Regions from separate parts of the Homo sapiens genome. Here region 1 is linked to region 2. Evidence: fine-mapped expression QTL. A gene starts in region 2. The other region holds a variant in brackets. All regions are shown on one strand. Distances are from middle to middle.

Region 1 (5,388 bases), 52 kb after region 2:
CACAATACTAAGTACTTAGGAAGTTTTCTCACTATTTATCTTTACACTCATATTTGGTAAAGCCTTTATAAGACTATAAGATCTGAGATTTGTTTGGAATCAAGCAACTCAACAATGAAAAATAAATATAAGTAATTAAAGATTTGGGAAGTAATCCTATTAATAGAAGAAAACATAATGTATTTTTTGTGTAGAAAAGGGTATGTTTATGAGAAACTTACTAACAAGAGTTTCTAGATATCTAAAAGGCATTTGTGAACAGAGTTTTCTTGTTTTCCCAAGCCAATAGAAATAGAAACAAAACTAAAGTATATGGCGCGGGGTACAGTATTCATGAATAAAATGTAGCTAAGAATTAGCATGATGCTGATATAATATTGAGTAACCACTGTATATCAGTACTAAAGGCAGTGACAGAGATAGAGATATCAAGTTATATTAGGAAAGACATAATATCAGTTCTCATTCCTTTCTTCTCCAGTGTTTTTCTTAGGGAAATAAACATAAATACACAAATATTTCTGCATATAAATTTCATCCTGCTTTCCAATCTATAAGTTATGTGAAATTGTCTCTATTTTTAAAGAGAAACTATTAGAGTTTAAGAAGTCTTCCCAATTTAATAAAGAAATTAAGTGGAAGTCAAGGAAGGCAGTTTATGGAGAAAAAATTAAAGCACAAAGCTTGGAGCTAGAATATCTGAGTTCCAGTGTGGACCTGGGCACTTTGTATCATTTGACTGTGAGAAAATTGCTTCTCAATACTTTATTTGTAAAATAAAACATATGAATACACGCAAAATTGTTGGAAAGATTAAATAGGCATACTGTCAGTAGAAACACTTTGAATATAAATATAAATACTTTTTAAAGAATTTATGGAAGAACAGACTTCTTTCTTGGCCTATGGTTGAAGATTAAATTAAAGAAACCTAAATGCTCATGTTTTTAGTCAATAAGACTTTGATCTAAACTTTTAAAGCTGCTTCTGACCAAACGTTTTTATTTGACTACTTCTCATCTTCAAACTCATGCACAGTATAAGTCATTCTTGCCATCTAACATGGGTCTAATATGGTTCATGATTTGCATTAACTTTGAGAGATTTTAGCTACCTAATAAGGAAAAAAATAGTAGTTAGAACCTTGTGCATCTTTGAGTTATCACCTACCCAATATTATCAAAAAGTACTACAAGATAGCCCTTGTGATATACAGGGATGGAGAATAACAGTGAACAATGAAAACTACTTACAATTTCAGAGAAGAACAGGATAGATCTTAGGGCCAACAAGTTTAAGATGTCTTTTACCTCTTTATATGTTACTCATTTTATCACATCCAACTGGAATTATTCTTGCACTTCCTATTATTGAAAGCTTCTAGAAATTTGCAAGAAGCAGATAGACCTAATAATTAATCTGATCATCAGTCCCCCCCCAAAAAAATGCTTGAGTCATAAATAGCAGCGAAATCCATTGATTGTAAATAAAGTAGAAGGGAGACATGACTGAGCCATTTCCACCAAGCAAGATAATTAAAGTCAGAGATGCTGTTTCCTGCTTCCCTGGTATAAACAATGAAGCTGCTCTACTGGCCTCTCCACAGCCTGGATGTCCCAAAACCACCTCCCTCTTCTTTCCTTCCACATTCTCTAAAGAGGATTCTGGGTCATAAAGGAAGGAAAATTGGTGTAACTTTTTTCCTGAAACGACTTCAGCTTCCTCTGTGTTTGTATTTGTGATATCTTATTATAAGACGAGCTAACATCTATTATTAATTGATGCACTAATTAAAGCCATACTTGCAGTTTCCATTAGCTTATTCCCTAAATTCTCCAGAGTTGCCTGTCTGGTTTTAATCAAAACCAAATGGTAGTCCAAATTCCCAACCTGGAGCAGCTAGGAGGAAGTCATTCAAGGGAGGCACAAGAAAGCAGAAAAGATAAACAGATGATAGTTCACAAAATTTGTGACGGACGAAGGATGCAGATACCATGAGCGGCTTTAGAGATGTGATTCAGGAACGCTGCCATGCTAGATGGAAGCAGTTGTAAGTGTTTAATGTCAGCAAGACTCTAATACGATCAAGATGGAGCCTGTCTTCTGCTCCAGCACTGGATTTTTGTAACTGGAGGATTCTGACTAGAGGTAATGCGCTGCTGCATTTGCCATAACACGAACTATTTTAATTCTGTGAAGGATTCTTGTGATCAGAGAGATCTGGAAGAAATCGTTCTATTAACTGGATGCTTGGGATTTTACTTACAGATGGTCTCAGGGACAGAATGAAAAGCTGCAGCATTTCCAATTTTAAGTCATGTTCAAAAAAGGTTTTGCCATTTAGAAGAATTATGGTATTAAGGCTAAATTCATCTTGCTCTCTTAAAAGATCTTTTGAAATGAGAGCAAGCACAGGCATTTTGATTAAGCTGTGCATATACATTTAATATAGTGGAAAGGTTGTGGATAGAGAGAAAACTACGTTTTCTTTCTTTCTTTCTTTCTTTTTTCATAAGCAGTGTGGGATAGAAAAAGCTCTAGGACTTTATGACTCTACAGCTAATCACCTCAAGAGCTTTGACAAAACTCACTTGAGTTCTGTGTAAAATCAGAACTCCTAAAACGCCCAGGCGGCTGGGCTCTCCCCTCCTCCCCTCTCTTCGTACAGCCTTTCTAGCATGCACACTCCTCAGAGGCAGGAAATACTTTCCAGGCAATCTGGGCCTGGTTGTGGAGGCCCCTTTTGCAAAACCTCAGTCTGAATTTAGTAGACAGAAGTCACTAGGAATGCCTTGACAGGATCCTGCCTTAGCTAAGGCTCCCTCCAGCTGCAGAGGGTGTTTTTGTTAGACTCACACACTGCGTGAAACTGCTCAGAATAGAGCCATGATCTCAACCACGAAATGGGAACTTAGATTTTGGAGAAACTAACGGGGACGGACTTCTTTCCTAGCCTGAGTGTTGAGCAGTGTCATGCCTTGGCGTTTCAGCTCCT[C/T]GTTGTCTAGGTAAGACGCTATGGACTATCTTTATGCTTTGAGGCGGTCTTTGAAGAGGCAGAAAGATTGAGATAAATGTTAGCATCTTGCACGGAGTTGGTGACTTCCTAGGTTTTAGAGCAAAGCCATAAAATCAGAAGTGGAAAATGTTTGATAAGTAGAAAATTCTGAGTCAATTCGTTTTAGCAAACTGTCAGTTCTAAAACAGGCTCCATATAGATTTAACTCTTTTCCTCCATAAAGTAAGATTTTATTTTTATCCCTTTTTACGTTTAACTTATTTATTAATTGAGCTGTCGGATCAGTTTTCCTATTTCTTGGCATAACGTGAAACAAATACATTTTCTCACACATCAGTGTGAGGTGTAAATGAATTCCTCCCCTACCTTCCTTTGCCAACAGGGAGAGTAGAAAGCACCCGAGTGACTTGTGCTTAATAATCAGTCTCCAAAGAGTATTTTGTGTCTCATTTAAAACTACGAAGATTGAATTTCTTATTATTTTACCCAAGCCAGTTTCAATCATATGTCAAGCTTCTCCTGTACAGCTTAAAAGGTTCATTTAAAAAAAAAAAGTAAACACGTGAAATTTCAGGAATTATTTCTGTCCTAAATAGTATTTAATCTGAGTTTTGGAAATTTAAATGTCGGAATCGAATTTAGTTTATATTAATTTTCCTGGATTCACTGCTTGCTCCGGTCACATTTTGTGTAATATTTTGAATAACTGAAGTCAATCTCAATGACACTGACACTCATTATAACTCTTTTAAGGCAGCCAGAAATCACTCCAGTCATATGGAAACTGTTTGTGTCCTTACTTATGTAATCGTAAAATTACATTTCCACCTGACTGTAGTCTCTTCAAGGTAATCTTAAATGTTTAAATGTACAATATATTAGAAAAGAAGTTTAGTAATGACCGAAAAAGTGTGGACTTATAATGCATAAGATACTGTTATATTTCTGAATATTTATAATAAAATTCATCATTTTATAGAAATAAAATGGTACATAAAGGGAAGAAATATTCATGTACATTTTCAAATCTATTAGATGAATACAAAATATACTAAGTGAAAGATGGAGAGCTATTTTGACAGTTGGATCATAAGAAATGAAGTAACTGTTTTCATTATAAGTTTTTATATAGTACAAGGTGACCATCTGCTATATTAGCTATTCTCAAATTTTATGCTAGAATAACTTATATTGATAAATTTTAACTATTCACTGACAATTTGTGTTAAAACTTCTTAAATATGAGAAAAAGAATCTACTTTTTATATATGTGGAAGATAAAATACTGACTTATCTAAATTATGATTTAATTAAAATCTCCAAATGGAATTTCAGAGAAGGAAAGAACATAAGAGATGGTCTCCTCTAACAATGGCTTGAGGTTGTCTACAAGAAGCTGAGAAATGGGATTTAAAAGTGACCTGTCCAAGGTCACACCTCTAGCTAATAGAAGAGAGGACAGCAGAACCACAGTGCCCTGATTCATAATTCAGATACCTTTTTATCCCATCATCCTGCCCTCCCATAATAATTATGCATAATGAAGTATGAACATGTCCAGTAGAAGGGTGCTTTGCAGACAGAAATTTGCAGTTCCTCTAATTTAAAAAAAAAAAAAAAAAAAGGTAAAACTGTCACCAATGTTAATTATGTGGGGAAAAAAATCCTAACTTTAAAAAAAAATCAAATCAGTATGCCTTCAATAAACACTTTACAGTAGTAACTTGCTTTATGACTATTTTATTATATTTGATGTTTATGTCAAGAAAATCAATCCATATGCTAATAATTATATTAATTTTAATCTGATGTTTCTTTAAAAATAGGGCTAGAAAACAGCTTTTCTAATTTATATCCTTGTACTCAAATGATCATAATGAAACTGTCCCAACCAATGACTTTCAGAGGCAATTTTACAGCACCACCCCCAGGCATCCTTTCTTCTATCTAGCCTAAATCATTGTTGCTGTAGCTTATTTCAAGTTCTATGTGGGTCTTTTCACTAAATATATAAAAAGCCTAAGTTGACATATAAAAAATATGTTTACATTTCTCCAGCATGTTTGCAATCCCTTAATTGATTTGTATGTCTGCTCTAAGCCTTCTACAAAGTCATTTAATTGTAGAATGCAGAATTTTTACAGTATATAAATAAATGTCTGAACAACGTGGTATAAAATGGGAGCGTGGGCTATTTCATCTGCATCATACTTCATATATGACAATATTTGTTGCTGTGTGTGCTGAAGCAGTATACCTTCTCAGACAAGACCCTTTCTCATAAATGTAACACATTCCATTTCTAATAGCTGCCATTTCCTTAGAGAGAATGTGTCACGATACTTTTTTTTTCCATTTTCATGACCAGATTG
Region 2 (5,388 bases):
TGGCGGCACGCACCTGTAGTCCCAGCTGCTGGGGAGGCTGAGGTGAGAGGATCACCTGAATCCTAGAGGTTGAGGCTGCAGTAAGCAGTAATTGCACCACTGCATTCCAGCCTGGGTGATAGAGCCAGACCCTGTCTCAATAATAAATAAGTAACAAATTTAAAAAATAGTAATTCTGAGAACTGTATGCTGACATTTGGGAACTGTATGCTGAAAGTCTTGCTGAAAAATAGCTTGGGGTTGAGTTGAAAAATAAAAAGGAAGAACAAAAGATGACTCAGATTTCTAGCTTGGTTGACTAAAAGGGTGGAGCATGCCCTTTAATGGGGGAATTCTAAAGGGAAAATTATTCAGAATTTTGATTATGTAAAACATGAATATATTGAGATGTCAAAGATAAAGCATGACATAATATGGATTTCAAATAAAAGGTTATTATGAAAATGGTAATGGTTATTTTCCATTTAGAATGACTTACTAAGGGGAAATATGCTAAATTTTATGGGGGAAAAAAATAGTATCTTTATACATAAATGAAGGTCTTAACGCAAAGAGTAATACTGAAGTACAATACTAAAACTCTTCTGTGCTGATTTTTGCAAACAAATTTCTTTTTCACTGAGATAATTCAGGTGTTGGACATGTAGAAAAGTGATCTCCAGGTAATGCCACTAATTCCATGGTTTTATATTTTTATAGAGGAAATAGATAATAAATGGCTTCTCAGAATGCCATCTAACATTTTTCTCCATAAATGTGTTTTCAAAATGCCATGGTATTCCTTGTGGAATAATACTGTTTCCTCATTACATAAATTTGGATGAACAACAGAAGGTTCATAAAATCTTCACGACCAAAATGGCTATCTAGATAATTTGTTTAAGCGTTCTTCTCTCAAAACTCAACACCTAACCCCAGCTTTACTTCTTCTTCCCCTTACAGCTAAATATTTCAAGGAGTACCCTATATCCATTCATTATTTACTTACATTTTTCCTCAATCTATTTTGTCTGCCCCATTTGTATAAGTGAAATGGCTTTTGCTAAGGTCAGCAGTGCCCAATACATGACTAAATCATCTTTACATGGCTTCTCTGTTGATTGATGTGGTTAGACAACTATCCTTCTTTAAATATTCATTCCTTAGCATCTATGACACTATACATTCCTGATTTCCTTGATCCACTTGATAACTTTTTTCACAATCTTTTCTGCAGGTTTATTTTTCTCTACTTAGCCATTAATTGGCATTTCTCAAGAGTTTGTATCAACCCTGCTTCTCTTCTTATTCATTTCCAAAAACGCTTGACAATCTACGGCTTCAACTTCCAGCTATATGCCATTGATCCCCACCCTTCCCCCAGTCCTACCCCAATTTATTTTGCACCTCTAGGCTATACCTTTCCTCTGAAGCGCAAAAACAAATAATCAAATGTTTCTTCAAACTGTCAATGTGTATGTCCCAAATGCACCTTATATGTCCAAATAATCATACTCTTCAACAGTTCCATCAAACATAGTCCTCTTCTGGTGTTCCTGTCTTAATGAAATTAATGATCATTCATCCGGGCGCACAAGTCAGAGCCTTAATAACATTTCAAACATCTACTATTTATTAATTCCCCATAGCCATTTGATCGCCAAAGACAGTTATTACTTTTTAAGTTTCTCTTACATCCCCATACTACTTTGCTTCTGTACCATCAACATCCTGGCCCAAACTACCAACATAGTTCTCTTGGAATTTTGTAAAAGTTTTTATAACTATTCCAACTACAACAGTGCCTTCTATAATAGGAAAAAAAAAGTGAAAGTTCTTAGTCCTCAAATCTGTGAAGGAAGCATAGTAAAGTCTTAAGTTAGTTTCCCAAGTGCCTGTAGAAATTATGGTAATTACTCAAATACACAACAAAGACATCTATCCACATTACACATTATCATTAACAATCACCAGCTCTGGTTTGATTAGAGTAAGTCGCTTGAGAAATGGCAGAGAAAATGGTAAATGACAAGCACTATTTCCATCTCGCTGCAACTTCTGCTCTGTCTCTGATCTTTCAAAACCAGAGTATCTGATATGACTTTTCTCAGTCAGTCTTTTCCAGATTATTCTGGGGTCATCTGAAAGCCTGGGAAAGTCTTGATGTGCTTCTCCAATACGGGTGAGAAAGTCTTTGGTATGAAGATGTTCATCTATTCTCTCTTGGAGTAGAAATGACTCCAGTAAAGTCTTCTTTTGTTTCAGAAAGGCAGACAGGGCCAGCTCCGCTCTTTTCCTGTTACAATAGGGACACTGATAAGATATGTGTTGCTTAGCTGCTGCCTCCTGTTTTGGCGTTGTCCTCATGTTTTTAAAGTAGATTCTGTTCAAAAGTTCATCGGGTACAGTACAACTAAAGGCATCTCTCTCTGAAGCCTCTACATCCAATCCAAGATGCAGCTTTTTATGTCTGCTGCTCGTCTTCTTCTTAGAATCCCCTCTACGATGAATCAAATTTATCTTCATGGTGCAATAAGACTGCAGGGCATTCAATTCTTCATCTGATACCCGAGTGATTTCTGTTGGAAGTTTGGTGTCTGGTTGGTGCCGTTCAAAGTTAGAGTCTTTGAGCTTGAGGTAGTTGATCCATTTTTTACTCAACTTCTTTTCATAATTTTTATAGTCCAAAAGCTCAGATTGTGTGTCTCCTTGTTCCAAGCTTGGAGTCTGCTTTTCCCTCTCCAGTTTGCTCCCAGAGGTCAGGGGCGAGGACTGCCGTCCTCCAGAGGAGCTGAATGAGCTGGAAGTCTGTACCTCATCAGTAGAGTTCTTCAAAGTCTCAGTCTCATCAGAAAGGTTTGCAAGAGCACTTTTGTCCGTTTGGGCCAATTCTGGGCAGATGGCCATCACAATGCATCAGGCTCGGCTCCTCATCTCCTTTGCCCAGGTTAAGACTGGCTCAGGAACCCGTCAGGAGCTGACCCCTCCGGGAATGGATCTCAATGCCATCAGCTCTGCGGAGGTCGTCTTCCGGGAGACGCCTTCCCAGCTGTCTTGGCAACGCGGGCCGCTCATGCGCAGTGACTGGCCACCATGCGGCGTCCCGCCTTTTCCTCCGCGCTCCCCAGCGCCCACTGCGCTTGCGCTGCTTGCGCCGGGTTGGCGATTTTGCCCTGTCTTCTGCACTCCTGCTTCTCTTTGGTGCTAAAGTCGAGTAGTCAACGGGAAAACCTTGCAAACTCTGTTTCCCAGGGGTCAGACAGGTGGCACACGTGTGTGAGACCAATAGAGTTAGGTGGCCTGTGACAAATCCGAACGTGTACGCCCGCCTAAATGCATCTAGATTTAAAAATCAAGCAAAACGCGCTGGACAAGATGCACAAGCAAAAACTTGTCTGCAGTGTTTATAGCCAAGAGACACCTCCTTGTAGAGCATGTCTTTGGGGAAAAGTCAAAATACAGAAACCATTCTGTAAGAAGTAGTGTTCTGTGCTCCAGCATTCTGAGGACCTCGAAGTTTGGGCGGGGTCGGGGGTGGGGAGCAGGGGCGGGGGAGGACCTTAATTTTCCAAATCAGTTTCTCTGGCCTTTTGTCCATACAGGTCCCCTCTGGCTAGCATATCCACGCCCGTCCTCACTCTTAATATCGTTAATTTATCCTCCTCCTCCGAGTCCCATTTCCTCAGGAAGGGCTTAATACCCACCCCTGCCTTAAACTCTTTCCAGCATTTTTTTTTAAATAGTGTCCAACTATGTGATTGTATGAGTATCTGATTATGAAGGCTGAAGGCAGAAATCATGTCGGTGTTGCCGACTAGTATGAGCCCAGCAATCAGCAGACACATAGCAGGTGTTCAAGAAATCTCTGTTGAGTGAATGGCTATGGAACAAATAAATCTTACCTTACACACGTCCAGAGGATTTGGAGAAATAAGTACTATAAGTTCAGGGAACTCTAACCTTTTTTCTAACTGAATCCCCAAACTTAGGCTATTACACAGGATATATTTTTTATTAATGGATTCATTTAAAAAACACAGTAGAGTTTTATTAATTATCGTGAGAAATTATAAAATGTTAACTCTAGAGATGGACTTTTCCTAGGTTATAATAGTTCTTGAGTCTAGGACTTAGTCAATGTCTAGGATAATTTTAAGAGCCTAGACACCCTTCTTTCTCAGTTTTGTCTCTCTCTCTCTTTCTTCCTGTGTTTCTTGGGGATTGGGGGGTATTATTCAGGTCTAGCCAGATATATTCCCCAAATGTTCATTCTGGCAAAAAGTGAAAGTCAAATATTCAAAAAGCATCTCTCAAGTATATGAGCCAGCTTCCTGTTGAAGATAAGGAGACTCCAACTTCATTTATTCAACCCAAATTTTATTTTATCATATAATGGTAGTCTTTAAAAAAGAGGTGGCATGTAATTTGTGAGTAACTCCAAGTAATTTCCAATAGGGCTCAATATTTTCCTTATTTATTATTTCAAATCTCTGCCTCATTCTCTGAATATTTACACATTCATATTTACACACTATTCATGTTTTAGCTATATCTTATCCATAACATTGAACAAGGGAGCTATACTTAAAATAAAATCTATCTGTGTCTTCTAACATGCCAAATGTCTGGGGTAATCTGTCTTTTTTATAATCGTGTCTTAAATTTCTCTTGATTTTTAAAAATAACTTTATCCTAGAAGGAGATATATGTGGGTGGGAAATTCTATAATTAATTTCCTTGTAATATTCAGCGTGACCCAGTGGACAGTTTTACATTCTAGTAAGTGTGTTATCTAAGGAAGAAAATTTCTCAACAGTACTATATTTATCAAATAAGATTCATGAAAACACAGGTCAAAGTTTGATTTTAAACAAATATGAAGAGTAATAGTTTTCCTTTGGAAATCTCAATCTTCTTGCCATCTCTCAGGGGCTGTTGGGAATGTCAAAATGCTTTGTGGACCAAGCTGTGGCTGAAGGCTGCTTGTGGTGGGGATTGGGAGATATGAAGAATAGAAAAGAGAGTCCAGTCAGGCTCTCTTGGCCTAACCTTGCTATGCCCCTCCTGTTACTGTTCTGCAGCTACTTTCTCTTCTTCCTAGTTCCTATCAGAGAGCAGGGCCAAGGGTCTTCTCCCAGCTTTTTCCTTAATGATCAAGAATGCTTTGCAGCTATAAGGCCAACCCCAGAAAGAGGAAGTCAAAACAAATTCATGATTCCCCTTCTCTCTTGCTTTCCTTTCCTATGGAGGGAGAAAAGCAAACTTTCAGCATCTGTCACTCTGGCAAGCAATTCTCCCCCCAGATATCATAAACGTTTCCATGATGAGTTGGCATTTGGCAGGTACCTCTTCCTGGTGGTGTGCAGTGTACAAAGTGGGAGTCTAGTTTAAGTATAAGAGAGACTACGA

Which allele goes with the higher level. Positions count from the first base shown, and alleles are read on the strand shown. Sizes are in standard deviations (SD) of each study's normalised expression.
For the expression in left ventricle of the gene that starts at base 3,009 in region 2, allele C in region 1 goes with a lower level than allele T (moderate effect, 0.49 SD a copy in GTEx).

What was found.
Region 1: its variant is fine-mapped to the expression of C8orf48 in left ventricle (GTEx, PIP above 0.99).

What each region holds. Positions count from the first base shown.
Region 1 is chr8:13,512,219-13,517,606 of GRCh38, reverse strand. It overlaps DLC1 (DLC1 Rho GTPase activating protein), which reads left to right and starts at 2,756. Exons shown (of 18, transcript NM_182643.3): 1 at 2,756-3,005. The variant C/T (reference allele first, on the strand shown) is at 2,996.
Region 2 is chr8:13,564,490-13,569,877 of GRCh38, reverse strand. It overlaps C8orf48 (chromosome 8 open reading frame 48), which reads right to left and starts at 3,009. Exons shown (of 1, transcript NM_001007090.3): 1 at 1,590-3,009. The coding sequence starts at 2,886. The coding sequence ends at 1,927. It also overlaps a transcript of DLC1 not described here.